Homo sapiens: one gene and its partners. The protein of the gene in region 1 purifies or fractionates together with the protein of each later gene. This does not show direct contact. Each region holds a gene or a part of one and is shown on either strand. Other genes may lie near its edges. The genes, in order: RNASE13, CLCC1 and LRP2.

Region 1 (4,138 bases):
TTAAGCTCATCAGCTATCGTTAGTGATAGTGTATTTTATGTGCGGCCCAAGACAATTCTTCTTCCAATGTGGCCCAGGGAAGCCAAAAGACTGGGCACCCCTACCCTATGAGAAACAAGCTATTGCAGACTTTTAGACGAAAGAAGGGATCACACTTTTTCTCTTGAAGTTGTATAAGAGATATATTTGAGTTGAGTCTTACTGGAGTTGGAGTGTGTGTGCTGTCCAGGCGAGACGAGAGCATCCACTGAGGAAGAAATAAGAATGGAAGAGATGGGCTTGGGAAAAGTTTAAGATTGTCAGGGCTGTGTGACTGATGGACTCAGGCTCATACTGAGGACTCACCATGTGCCGGGCACTGGTCTAAAAACTCTTGATATACATCTTAATGGATCCTCATACTGCCGTGAGGTAAAAAATACTATCCTCATGAACAGATGAAACAAGGAAGCTTTCAGTGGTTTCGTAAACAGATAGATGGTGTGCAGTTTGTAAGCTGCAGAGGCAGGATTCAATTCCTGGTCTGTTTCACTCAAAAGCCTTGATCTTAACCACCATGCAGGACCGCCTCCCCGTAGCTGGGATTGGGGAGGTGGAGGGGTCTAGGATCACTTTCAGGTTTCTTGCATAGGTAACCAGGGAAACTGAGTTGACAAAACAGGAAGAGAAACAAGTTATGGGGAGGATGGATTCCATTTTGGACTGTGGTTTGTGCTGTCAGAAAGTGCCAGTTTAGGGGGCTCTACATGAGGAACACCAATCTTTCTCTCTGCGGCCTTACTCCCTCCTCCTGAGCTATACTGAGGGTGTTGGAGCACTCAGCTTTCTGTGTTCTGACTCCCCTTTTCTGCTGCCCAGCAAAGGTAAAAAGGCTCTCCTAAGAGGAGGCCCCAAATCTGGAAGACACCTTGCAGACTAACAAGGCTGAGTGACCTGTGGAAGTCAAGGGCAAGAGCTAGCAGTTTCCAGGGAGCTGGCTCTTTGATTCTGATGAAAGGGAAGATGTTGATGAAAAAGATAGGAGCGTGGCCCTTTCCCCAGCATGGCAAACCACTCAGAGATCAACCAACAGTACGAAACGGATCATGCCAGGCTCTGGCATCCACAGCTTTTCATGTTCAGGTTATGCTTTCAAATCCAAACTGCCAAGTTTGAGGCTTCAGAGTCAGCATGCAGAGATTTCCAGTAGTGCTCAAACTCTGACAGGGCCTGAGGTCACAGGTGAAGGCTGTGGGTGTGACAGGAGTAAGGCTGATAGGGACCGTGGGGAGTCCACATGGAGGTCTTTGATTCTCAGCCCAGCACTTTGGTGGGAGGCCCCTGAGTACATGCCCTCCTGGGCTCCCGTGAGTGGGATGACAAAGTGGCGAATGCTCTGTTCTCTGAGGGTCAGGAATAAGAAGCACTTTGTTCCTCAGAAACATAACAGTGCTTTCCTACTCACCTTGCCACGAGAGCACAGGCTATGGAACAGAGAAAACATCAAAGAAAGCCCAGGCACTTAGGAACTTTTGGCAAGGAGATTGGAAGTAAGTGTTCCAATGACACTGTAGAGGAGGAGACCAGATAGTAATGCCTCTTTCCTCCCACCCATCCAACCCTCTTAGCACAGGGGCTCATCAAACTCGGGGACATTCCCTCCTCCCAGACTGATTTTTACCTAGAAACCTTTCTAGCCTCTCCTCATCTCTTGACTGTCTTGGCCTTGGCAAGAAGAATACACGTCCCTACCCAGCTATCTTCAGCTCCTGTCCTTCCTCCCAGCTGCCAGAGAATTGTCAGGTCAGCCTGCTCCTTCTTTCTTCTCTGCATTTTTTACTAGCAGGAGTGCCAGGGGCCCAAGGACTCTTGGGAAGAGTCTCTCACCCAAGGACCAGTTAGAGCTCTTATTCTGCAAATGTAGCTCACGGACTCTGCAGAGGCTGAGATTCTGTGGTGGACCAGGGGAGCAGGGCTGGCTGAAGGTGGCTGGTTGTCTGGGTGGCCTTGGGCAAGCATCTCCTCTTTCTGGGTCATGAGAACTTGGTTATGGGTGAGATGATCTCTAAAGTACTGTTGGGTTGGGAATGCTGGAGGCTCTGGGATGTGGCAGACAGCCACTTCAGGCCCACTGCTGCCCCCAACCACCTTAACTCTACCAGCAGGAGGAATGGCACCAGCTGTGACCCGGCTCCTTTTCCTCCAGCTTGTTCTGGGGCCAACTCTGGTCATGGACATCAAGATGCAGATTGGCAGCAGGAACTTCTATACCTTAAGCATTGACTATCCCAGGGTTAACTACCCAAAGGGTTTCCGGGGCTATTGTAATGGTCTGATGTCCTATATGCGAGGCAAGATGCAAAATTCAGATTGCCCAAAGATCCATTATGTGATACATGCCCCTTGGAAGGCCATCCAGAAGTTCTGCAAGTATAGTGACAGCTTCTGTGAGAATTACAATGAATACTGCACACTCACCCAGGATTCCCTCCCCATCACGGTCTGCTCCCTGAGCCACCAACAGCCACCCACTAGCTGCTACTACAATAGCACCCTAACCAACCAGAAGCTCTACCTACTCTGCTCCCGCAAGTATGAAGCTGATCCAATAGGTATCGCTGGTCTCTATTCGGGAATTTAATTCCTGAGCCACTCCCCAACCTCTACCACCACAGGCCAGCTGTCTCCATTTCCAACACTCTGATCCCTGTAACAAGACTTCCTTCCTGACTTACGAGGCAGGCAGGGTCCCCTCCCAAGAGACCAGGTGGGTGCGAAAATGTCCAGGGCTTTGATCACCATGCAAAGTGGTGCTATCTTCTAGGTTCTTTCCAGCTTGTTTACCCCCTCTTCGCCCCCACCTCCTCATCATCCTTCCTCTCCCAGAGACAGTAAAACCCACCCAAGAAGTTGACTGTGTCCAGTTGGCAGTGACTGTCCACCCACTGGGCCAGATCCTAAGTCCTGGATGGAGGCCCAGGGCCTCAGCTCACACCATGGCAACAGGCACCAGCTCCGAGTCTCACCTCCCCATCCCCACCAGCCTTCTCATGTCAGCCTCCCCCAGTTCCCTTATAATTCCCTCCACTCACCCACCTACTCAGGGGATATGGCTAGCTATAGGAACCTCCCTGAGGCCCTCAGACTCATGTTAGCCTCACTTCCCCACAACCCCCAGTTTCCAGCCTGCTTCTCTCTGTGAAATCATGGTTTCTCCCTTCATATAACTGTCCTCTCCTGCTTCCTCTTACCATGGAGCCTAGGACTGTCTCCCCCACACTCCCAACAACCGTAGTCACCCTGCCTTCCTTTTTCCAACCTCTTTTTCTTCCAGTCTTCTTACCTTGGCTCACTGGCATTTCAAGGTATCTTCTCTCACCCATTCCCCAGAGGTTCCTGCTTCCCTTCTCTTCCAGAAGCTCCTCCCAAATCCCCCAGACTCCAGAGTCTGCCCCTGACCAGGCAGCGAATGAGGCAGGCCCGGCTCTAATCGAACATAAATTTCTAAAACCACATCTGAGTATGTAAGATGTAACCATTGGGGGAAACTGGGTGAAGGGCACACGAGCCCCCTCTGTACCATTTTTTGTAACTTCCTGTCAACCCATAATCAATTCAAAATAAAAAGTTAATAACACACATCTGACTCTGTTGTGATTTAATTGCTTTTTCTTCAGTGCACCAGAACTCCTGCTCTTGGAATCCTGGCAGCCTGCCTCATCTGGCCATCTTCCTGAGCTACCCTTAGCAGTCAGTAAGCTCTTCTGTCCCATGTGCCCCATGATGGAGGTGATGTGGGGTAAAACTTAGTTCTGGGCTGGGTGTTGAAAATAGACTCTCCCCTTACCCCAGCTCTGGAACAAATTTGTAATAGAAGTCAGGCAACCTTAGCTGGCTTCTACTCCTCCACCCAAAAAACCTGAATTGCAACAGATGAGGAAGGTGGAGGGACAGGGAAGGATCTAATATGTGATATAGTCATAGTCCATCACGTGAGGAATTGCTACACCCTTTTGAGGGGTGGGGGTGGAGAGGTGGATATCAGTAATGTGTGAACACAAGTAGTAGATACTTTTACCTCCACATCTGGTTCATCTCTTTACTCCAAATATATTCTTCCATCCTGTTCTTGGAAGCAGCTGTTGAGGAGGAATGCTAA
Region 2 (3,651 bases), on another chromosome or scaffold:
AGTGAAACCCTGTCTCTACTAAAAAAAATACAAAAAATTAGCCGGGCGTGGTGGCGGGCGCCTGTAGTCCCAGCTACTCGGGAGGCTGAGGCAGGAGAACGGGGTGAACCTGGGAGGCGGAGCTTGCAGTGAGCCGAGATCGCACCACTGTACTCCAGCCTGGGCGACAGAGCAAGATTCCGTCTCAAAAAAAAAAAAAAATTATACATATATGTATATTTATATATCTATCTATATATATTTATATTTATATATCTGTCTATATTTATATATTTATTATATATAATATATATTTATATATTATATATTTATATTTATATATATATATGCACTGTCAGTATTTAGCAAGATTTATATTAAATCTTAGTATTAATATTAGTAATACTGGTTAGTATTAAATATTAGCACTGTCAATATTTAGCAAGATTTACAGAAAAAAAGGCAATGCTAAAATTATTGGGCTTCTTTGATGTTGTAAATCAGGCTAAGTCACGCTTAATGAGAAGGCGATTTTTAAGTGATACAGATTTTTTTCCTCCCCTCTGCCCCTCTAAATGATACAGACATATTATACTTACTTGTATATTTTTATAATCAAGAAAGTAGTTCTCTAGTTTGATTGCATATGTCATAGCAGTGATTTAGAATAATAACCTCTTTTTAAATGTGTTAACCTTGGTAAATTAATACACAGGAAATAGGAAGTTGATTTCTGTCTCCCAGAAAGGGGGACTTCTTATTTCTAGTCAGTTTTTGCAGCAGTGAGAAGGGTAGAGCATTGAGTTTGACACAGAACCAGAAAGGGATGTGGAAGAACATGGGTATGCTGAGAAAGAGTTTGGGGATCCAGGAGCAGACATTAAGAAGAAATATTACTCGTCATCCCTCCATGGTCTATTCAGTGTTTTTTGTTATCGATTTTTTAGCTATTACCCAAGTAAAGCAGTTGTCGCATAAAACAAAAAGAACTCAGATGTGCCAAGGGAAATTCTCTTCCCTAAGGATACAAGATTCACTATCTCTGTTCACTTTGAAATCGTTTCTTTTTTGGTTTTGTTTTTTGGCTTGTGATTACAGGATTATGTGGTTGACGGGTATTTTTTTGTTAGGTGACATTAGTTCTATAGTCATAGTTTAGTCTCTGAAACTGAAATTATCAGCAGAGTCTTCACCATCTGTTTTTGTTTCATGTGCTCCCTCAGGAAAGTTATGCTCTTTGACTTTTGCTGCTTTTGTCTTCAAATAGTAGTGTTTGAAAAACTAGTACAGAAATTTTCAAAGTTTCTGTTCTCAGGACCTCTTTGCAGTCTTAAAAATTGAAGCCCACAAACAGCTCTTACTTAAGGTGATTATATTTATTGATACTTACATATTAGGAGTTAAAACAAATTTAAAACATACGAGTACTGTACACGCAAGCATGCATCCCCTGAGTCTGAGTGAGGCTGTCACTCTAGCATCTGGAATGCTCCGTTGTATATTCAGGAGGGGACAGTGAAAAAGACAAATAATAATGTCTTTGTATTATGAAAAGTTTTGATCTCATAGATCTCCTGAAAGTCTCAGGTATCCCCCGGGGGTCCCTGGGCCACACTGTAAGGAACTGCTGCCTACTTTTTCCCATGGAATGTGAATCAAAACCTGTTGAATTTTAGCTGTAACTTAAGCCTAGTTTATATTTGTAAAAAGAAAATGTACAGAAGATTGTTTACATAATGATATACAACTTTAAATATTTTCAGCATTTACCTTATATGATGGGCATGAATCTAGAAACATGAATAATTATCAGACTAGAACCTTCTAATTTAAATATCTAGGCTTCAGCCTGCCATTGTTATAGTTCAATCGAAATGTGTCTAGCTGATTAAAATGTCTACTGAAAGATTTATTAAGTTTTATTGGCCACTCTGGCCTTGTATTAATCTAAAGAGGTCTCTAATGAAAAAAAGTCAAATTAACATGTTTATGTCTATAAATGCCACAAGTAAGTTAAATTACATAACTTTGTTAGCACTCTGAATAAAATGCCTCATAACTTTTGTAAGTTAGCCATTGAGTCCTCAGGAAAATGTATTTCTTTTCCTTACAGAGTTTCTGCTATGGTGCTGGAAAATCAGTTCATGTGCTGAGACATATAGGCGGTCCTGAGAGCGAACCTCCCCAGGCACTTCGGCCACGGGATAGAAGACGGCAGGAGGAAATTGATTATAGACCTGATGGTGGAGCAGGTGATGCCGATTTCCATTATAGGGGCCAAATGGGCCCCACTGAGCAAGGCCCTTATGCCAAAACGTATGAGGGTAGAAGAGAGATTTTGAGAGAGAGAGATGTTGACTTGAGATTTCAGACTGGCAACAAGAGCCCTGAAGTGCTCCGGGCATTTGATGTACCAGACGCAGAGGCACGAGAGCATCCCACGGTGGTACCCAGTGTAAGTCAGCAACTCTTTTATTCTGCTGTCCCTTCATTACTGGTTCTAAATCCTTCTGGAAGAGGTCTGATTGTTTTTACTCTTTTACCCCTCACCCTTAATTATATCATGAGTGATACAGCCACTCACTCTCTCCCCTTTCTGGTCAAAAGTTAGTTCAGCTTCCTCAGAAGAAATAAAATTAGATTTAACTTTTATGTAAAATACAATTTAACAGTAGTTTGTTAGAGCAGATGGTAATTCATATGAACCTTCATGGGAAGCCAGCGTATGAGCATGACAGAAATTTCTATCTTTGAAGAGATCAGAGAGAAGGCATCACTGAAGGCCCGGAGCTCTAGGGAAGGTACAGTAGAGCCCTAAAGGATTAGCTGGATGGAAGAGTGGGCTGGGGCCAGGGATCAAAAACATTGCTTCCCCAAATCTTCAGTGTCATTGGCTGGCTAGACTATACTTTTTACCTGTAGAATGGTAAGAAGAAGTTTTTCACCATTATCAGTCTTTTAAAGGGACATTTCCATTTCTGTTTGAGAGAGGAATTTGTATTGTCATTTGAAATGTTTAAATTGCAGCTGTTAAACCTTTGAAACAGTTATGAGCATAATAGAATCTGGGAAATTATAGAATCCCTTCCCATAGTTTCATATAAAAATAAACATATCTACATGTATCTAGAAAGATGGACCAGGCGCGGCGGCTCACGCCTGTGATCCCAGCACTGGGAGGCCGAGGCAGGCGGATCACTGGAGGTCTGCAGTTCAAGACCAGCCTGGCCAACGTGGCAAAGCCCCATCTCTACTGAAAATACAAGAAAATTAGCCAGGCGTGATGTGGTATGCACCTGTAATCCCAGCTACTTGGGAGGCTGAGACAGGAGAATTGCTTGATTCCAGGGGGCGGAGGTTGCAGTGAGCCGAGATCGTGCCATTGCACTCCAGCCTGGGTGACAGAGTGAGACGTCGTCTCAAAAAAAAAAAAAAAAAAAAAAAAACAACTTAAGATGGTCCTTCCAGCTTTTATAGTTAGTAATTACCTGTCACCTATCTCAGAAGTCTTCCAGTGACTTCCTATCTCACTTGAGGGGAAAGCCAGTATTACAATGGCCTGGAAGCCTCCTTGGTCTCCCCTTCCCCCACATCCACTACCTCTCTGGTCACCTCTTCTCCCTCCGTGCTTACTCTACTTTAGCCATAAGGGCTCCTGACTGTTCCTTGAAC
Region 3 (3,651 bases), on another chromosome or scaffold:
GGTTCCACTGAATACCAAGAGCCTGAGAAACTGCTTGGGTGACTTGACAAGTAAAGGCCGGTCCACTGTCGGACTGTATAGAGGTGGGAAGGCCAAACCGAGGAATTATGTCTGACAGAAGGGAAGAAATGACCGCAGTGGACTTCTCAGACCCTGTGGGAAAGGCCTCTTCCTATCCTGTGAAAGTGTCTACCCAGACCAAGAGGTATTTTAGTTTCCTGACTTGGGGCATGTGAGTAAAGTCAATTTGCCAGTCCTGGGCGGGGGAAAAACCCCGAGCTTGAGGTGTAGGGAAGGGAGGGGGCCTGAGAAATTCCTGAGGAGTAGTAGAATAGCAGATGGAACACTGAGAAGTGATTTCCTTGAGGATAGATTTCCACAATGGAAAGGAAATGAGAGGTTCTAAGAGACTGGCTAGTGGCTTGTAACCTACATGGAAGAGGTTATGAAATGATGACAGAATAGAATGGGCCTGTGAGGCTGGAAGGAGATATTTTCCTTGGTCTAAGAACCATTTGCCTTGTGTGGGAAGAGATTGATAGGTGGAAGTTTCAGCGGGGGACTAGGTGGGAGTGACTAATGTGAAGGAGAAAAACTGACTGTGAGGGACAGAAGTTGGAACGCTAGCTGCTTTTTTAGCTAATTTATCAGCATAAGCATTGTCCTGAGCGATGGGATCTGATGCCTTTTTGATGGCCCTTGCAGTGAATGACTCCAGCTTCCTCTGGAAGTAAAGCGGCTTTGAGAAGCGTTTTTATTAAAGACGCATTAATGATAGAGGACCCTTGTGTAGTGAGGAAACCTCTTGCATGGTGGTGCAGGATATGGAAGGCATATATAGAGTCAGTATAAATACTGACATGTAGTCCCTTTGCAAGAGTGAGGGTTTGACTTAAGGCAATGAGTTCGGCTTGCTGAGAGGTAGTGGAGCGGGGCAGAGCGGTAGCCTCAATGATAGATGTGGAAGATACTATAGCATAGCCTGCCTTTGCTGGTGAGTGGCGATTAGGCCTGGTGGAACTGCTATCAGTAAACCAAGTGTGTTCAGGGTGAGGAACAGGAAAAAAGGAAATATGGGGAAATGGGGTGAATGTCAGGTGGATCAGAGAGATACAGTCATGGGGGTCAGGTGTGGTATCCGTAGTAATGTGGGAGGCTGGATTGAAGTCTGGGCCAGAAACAATGGTAATTGTGGGAGACTCAACAAAGAGTGAGTACAGCTGAAGGAGCTGGGGAACAGACAGTATATGCGTCAGGTGGGAGAAAGAAAATAGATTTTGGAAGTTATGAGAACTGTAGAGAGTGAGTTGAGCATAGTTTGTGATTTTTAGGGCCTCTAAAAGTATTAAAGCAGTGGCAGCCGCTGCACGCAGACATGAGGGCTAGGCTAAAACAGTAAGGTCAAGTTGTTTGGACAGAAAGGCTACAGGGCACGGTCCCGGCTCTTGTGTAAGAATTCTGACTGCACTAACCATGCCTAGGAAGGAAAGGAGTTGTTGTTTTGTAGAAGGGATTGAGGTTTGGGAGATTAGTCAGACTTGATCAGCAGGGAGAGCATGTGTGTTTTTATGAGAATTATGCCGAAATAGGTAACAGATGAGGATGAAATTTGGGCTTGACTGAAGTAATGGGGGCTGTCTGTGAAGCTTTGCAGCAGTACAGCCCAGGTAATTTGCTGAGCCTGATGGGTGTCAGGTTCAGTCTAAGTGAAAGTGAAGAGAGGCTGGGATGACGGGTGCAAAGGAATAGTAAAGAAAGCATGTTTGAGATTCAGTCCGTCATCTTTAAGAAGAGCTGGGAGATGAAATAGGAATATAGGTGAAGGGAATAACTTTACATAAGGTCTGCATCAATAGCCCCAGCGCCACTTTTACTGCTTGTCAACTGCGAACATGTATCTCCTTTGTCACAACAACTATGGCCTTAGTGACAATGAATAACTGTCATTGTTAACACCTAATGCTCCTTTTGAACTCGAGATATGGCACATTTTAATACAGAAACTAGAAATGTTTATTTTACAAATATTTTGTGATTTTAAGATCGGAAATGTTTAAATCTTGAAAGCATTTTCCCTGATCCTCTGATAAACAGATATGAAAACTTTAATCACATGATAAAAGAGATACGACATTTCATTTGACATCTTCACTTAAAATAAAATGAGGCCATGTATACAAATGCATATCCAAGTTTCAGAATAAACAAGTAATGAATGTGAAAATATAGGAAAAGGAGTGAATTGTCTACCTTGTAGTTTATTATGCATTCATGGTAATTTGGTCTTAAAAGGGAACCTTGGAATTGTATGAATGTTATAGAAAAATGCGTAGAAGATTATTAATTCTATCATTCTCATCTTTTCAAAAATTCAACCTCTTTTTAGTAGTACTATGAAATCTTAATTTCCGAAGATAGGATTTATTAATATTCAAAGAAATTATTAAGATCCAAAGATAGGATTCTCAGTTCATCAGTGAGGTTGGGGAATTATTCTTGCTGTTCTTCTAGGATTTGGCTTCCAGTATATAACTAGAGTATGATTATCCAAAAATTTGGTCAACAGTGGGAGTAAGAAGGTATAGAGAATACAGTAGAAATTGCTAGTAATAAGTGAGAGTGTGACCAGTGAGGGATGTATTTGCCTCCCAGGATTAAGGTATGAGGTGACTTAGTGGTTGCTGCTCTTGATTTTGGGGCGGTGGGAGTGATGTTTAGTCCTGGCCTACTGGGTCATGCAATAAAAATGGTGCCTGATGATGTCTGTGGGAGAACAAGATGGCAAAAAGAGCCAGAGTTGGTACAAACTTTACAGCAAATTTATTTACTACTAAATTCTTTCAAAATTGGGTAAAGGCCTTTAACATGTCCACAGGTGACTGTATCTGAAAATGTGGATAATAAGAATTATGGAAGTCCCATAAACCCTTCTGAGATAGTTCCAGAGACAAACCCAACTTCACCAGCTGCTGATGGAACTCAGGTAACAGTTGCCGACTCCTGAAATAATGTGGGATTTGGAAAAACTTTGGGATGACTGGGTTTTTATTAACCTTAAGCAAACAAGGGAGATTCTGGAAGGCTCAAAGATCTCAAGATGTGTTGACAGTTAATAAATATAATTTTTTAAAAAGTCATAGATTGAAAAACTTTCCACCAAATAAAGCTACATTCTAACATCGAGTTGGGAATAATGTTCCTTGTAACATAGGAGGACATGTCACAAAGAAGAACAAATAGACTTCTGGATCCAGTATCTTCAGACCAGAGACATTTAAGTTGAGAAATTGACTCAGTATGAATAAAGATTTCACGGTGTCAAAGATACAGATGAAAGATCCGTCTGTGTGTGCCGTGATTTCTCTACAGCATGCATCTTTATTCTTTCAAGCTGTTCTTCGCTCTCCTGCTATTACAGATCTTTACCACTAGATGGCACTAATTTTTCCATTCATCATCCATCTATTCATTATTGGCCAACCAATCATCTAACTAACGTTATTCCCCTCGATGTGTCAGGGATGGTGTTTAATACTGGAGATTGAAAGAAAAAAATGCCACTAGATGGAGCTTCTTAAACATGCCTGCAGGTCCTTTGCAATTGGTACACTATTTGGTCTGCAGGAAGAAATTCAATAAATATATTTGATA

Evidence for each region.
Region 2: the proteins of RNASE13 (region 1) and CLCC1 purify together in Homo sapiens (affinity purification with mass spectrometry, with the first as the bait; one large-scale study listed by BioGRID). This does not show direct contact.
Region 3: the proteins of RNASE13 (region 1) and LRP2 purify together in Homo sapiens (affinity purification with mass spectrometry, with the first as the bait; one large-scale study listed by BioGRID). This does not show direct contact.

The regions. Positions count from the first base shown.
Region 1 is NC_000014.9:21,032,300-21,036,437, reverse strand, and holds RNASE13 (probable inactive ribonuclease-like protein 13 precursor), read left to right. Parts: upstream 1-1,630; 5' UTR 1,631-1,782; intron 1,783-2,141; 5' UTR 2,142-2,149; coding exon 2,150-2,620; 3' UTR 2,621-3,620; downstream 3,621-4,138. UniProt on the Homo sapiens protein: Does not exhibit any ribonuclease activity.
Region 2 is NC_000001.11:108,935,860-108,939,510, reverse strand, and holds part of CLCC1 (chloride channel CLIC-like protein 1 isoform 1 precursor), read left to right. Parts: intron 1-1,202; exon of another isoform or gene 1,203-1,345; intron 1,346-2,092; coding exon 2,093-2,434; intron 2,435-3,651. UniProt on the Homo sapiens protein: Anion-selective channel with Ca(2+)-dependent and voltage-independent gating. Permeable to small monovalent anions with selectivity for bromide > chloride > nitrate > fluoride.
Region 3 is NC_000002.12:169,131,906-169,135,556, reverse strand, and holds part of LRP2 (low-density lipoprotein receptor-related protein 2 precursor), read left to right. Parts: intron 1-2,875; coding exon 2,876-2,983; intron 2,984-3,651. UniProt on the Homo sapiens protein: Multiligand endocytic receptor. Acts together with CUBN to mediate endocytosis of high-density lipoproteins. Mediates receptor-mediated uptake of polybasic drugs such as aprotinin, aminoglycosides and polymyxin B.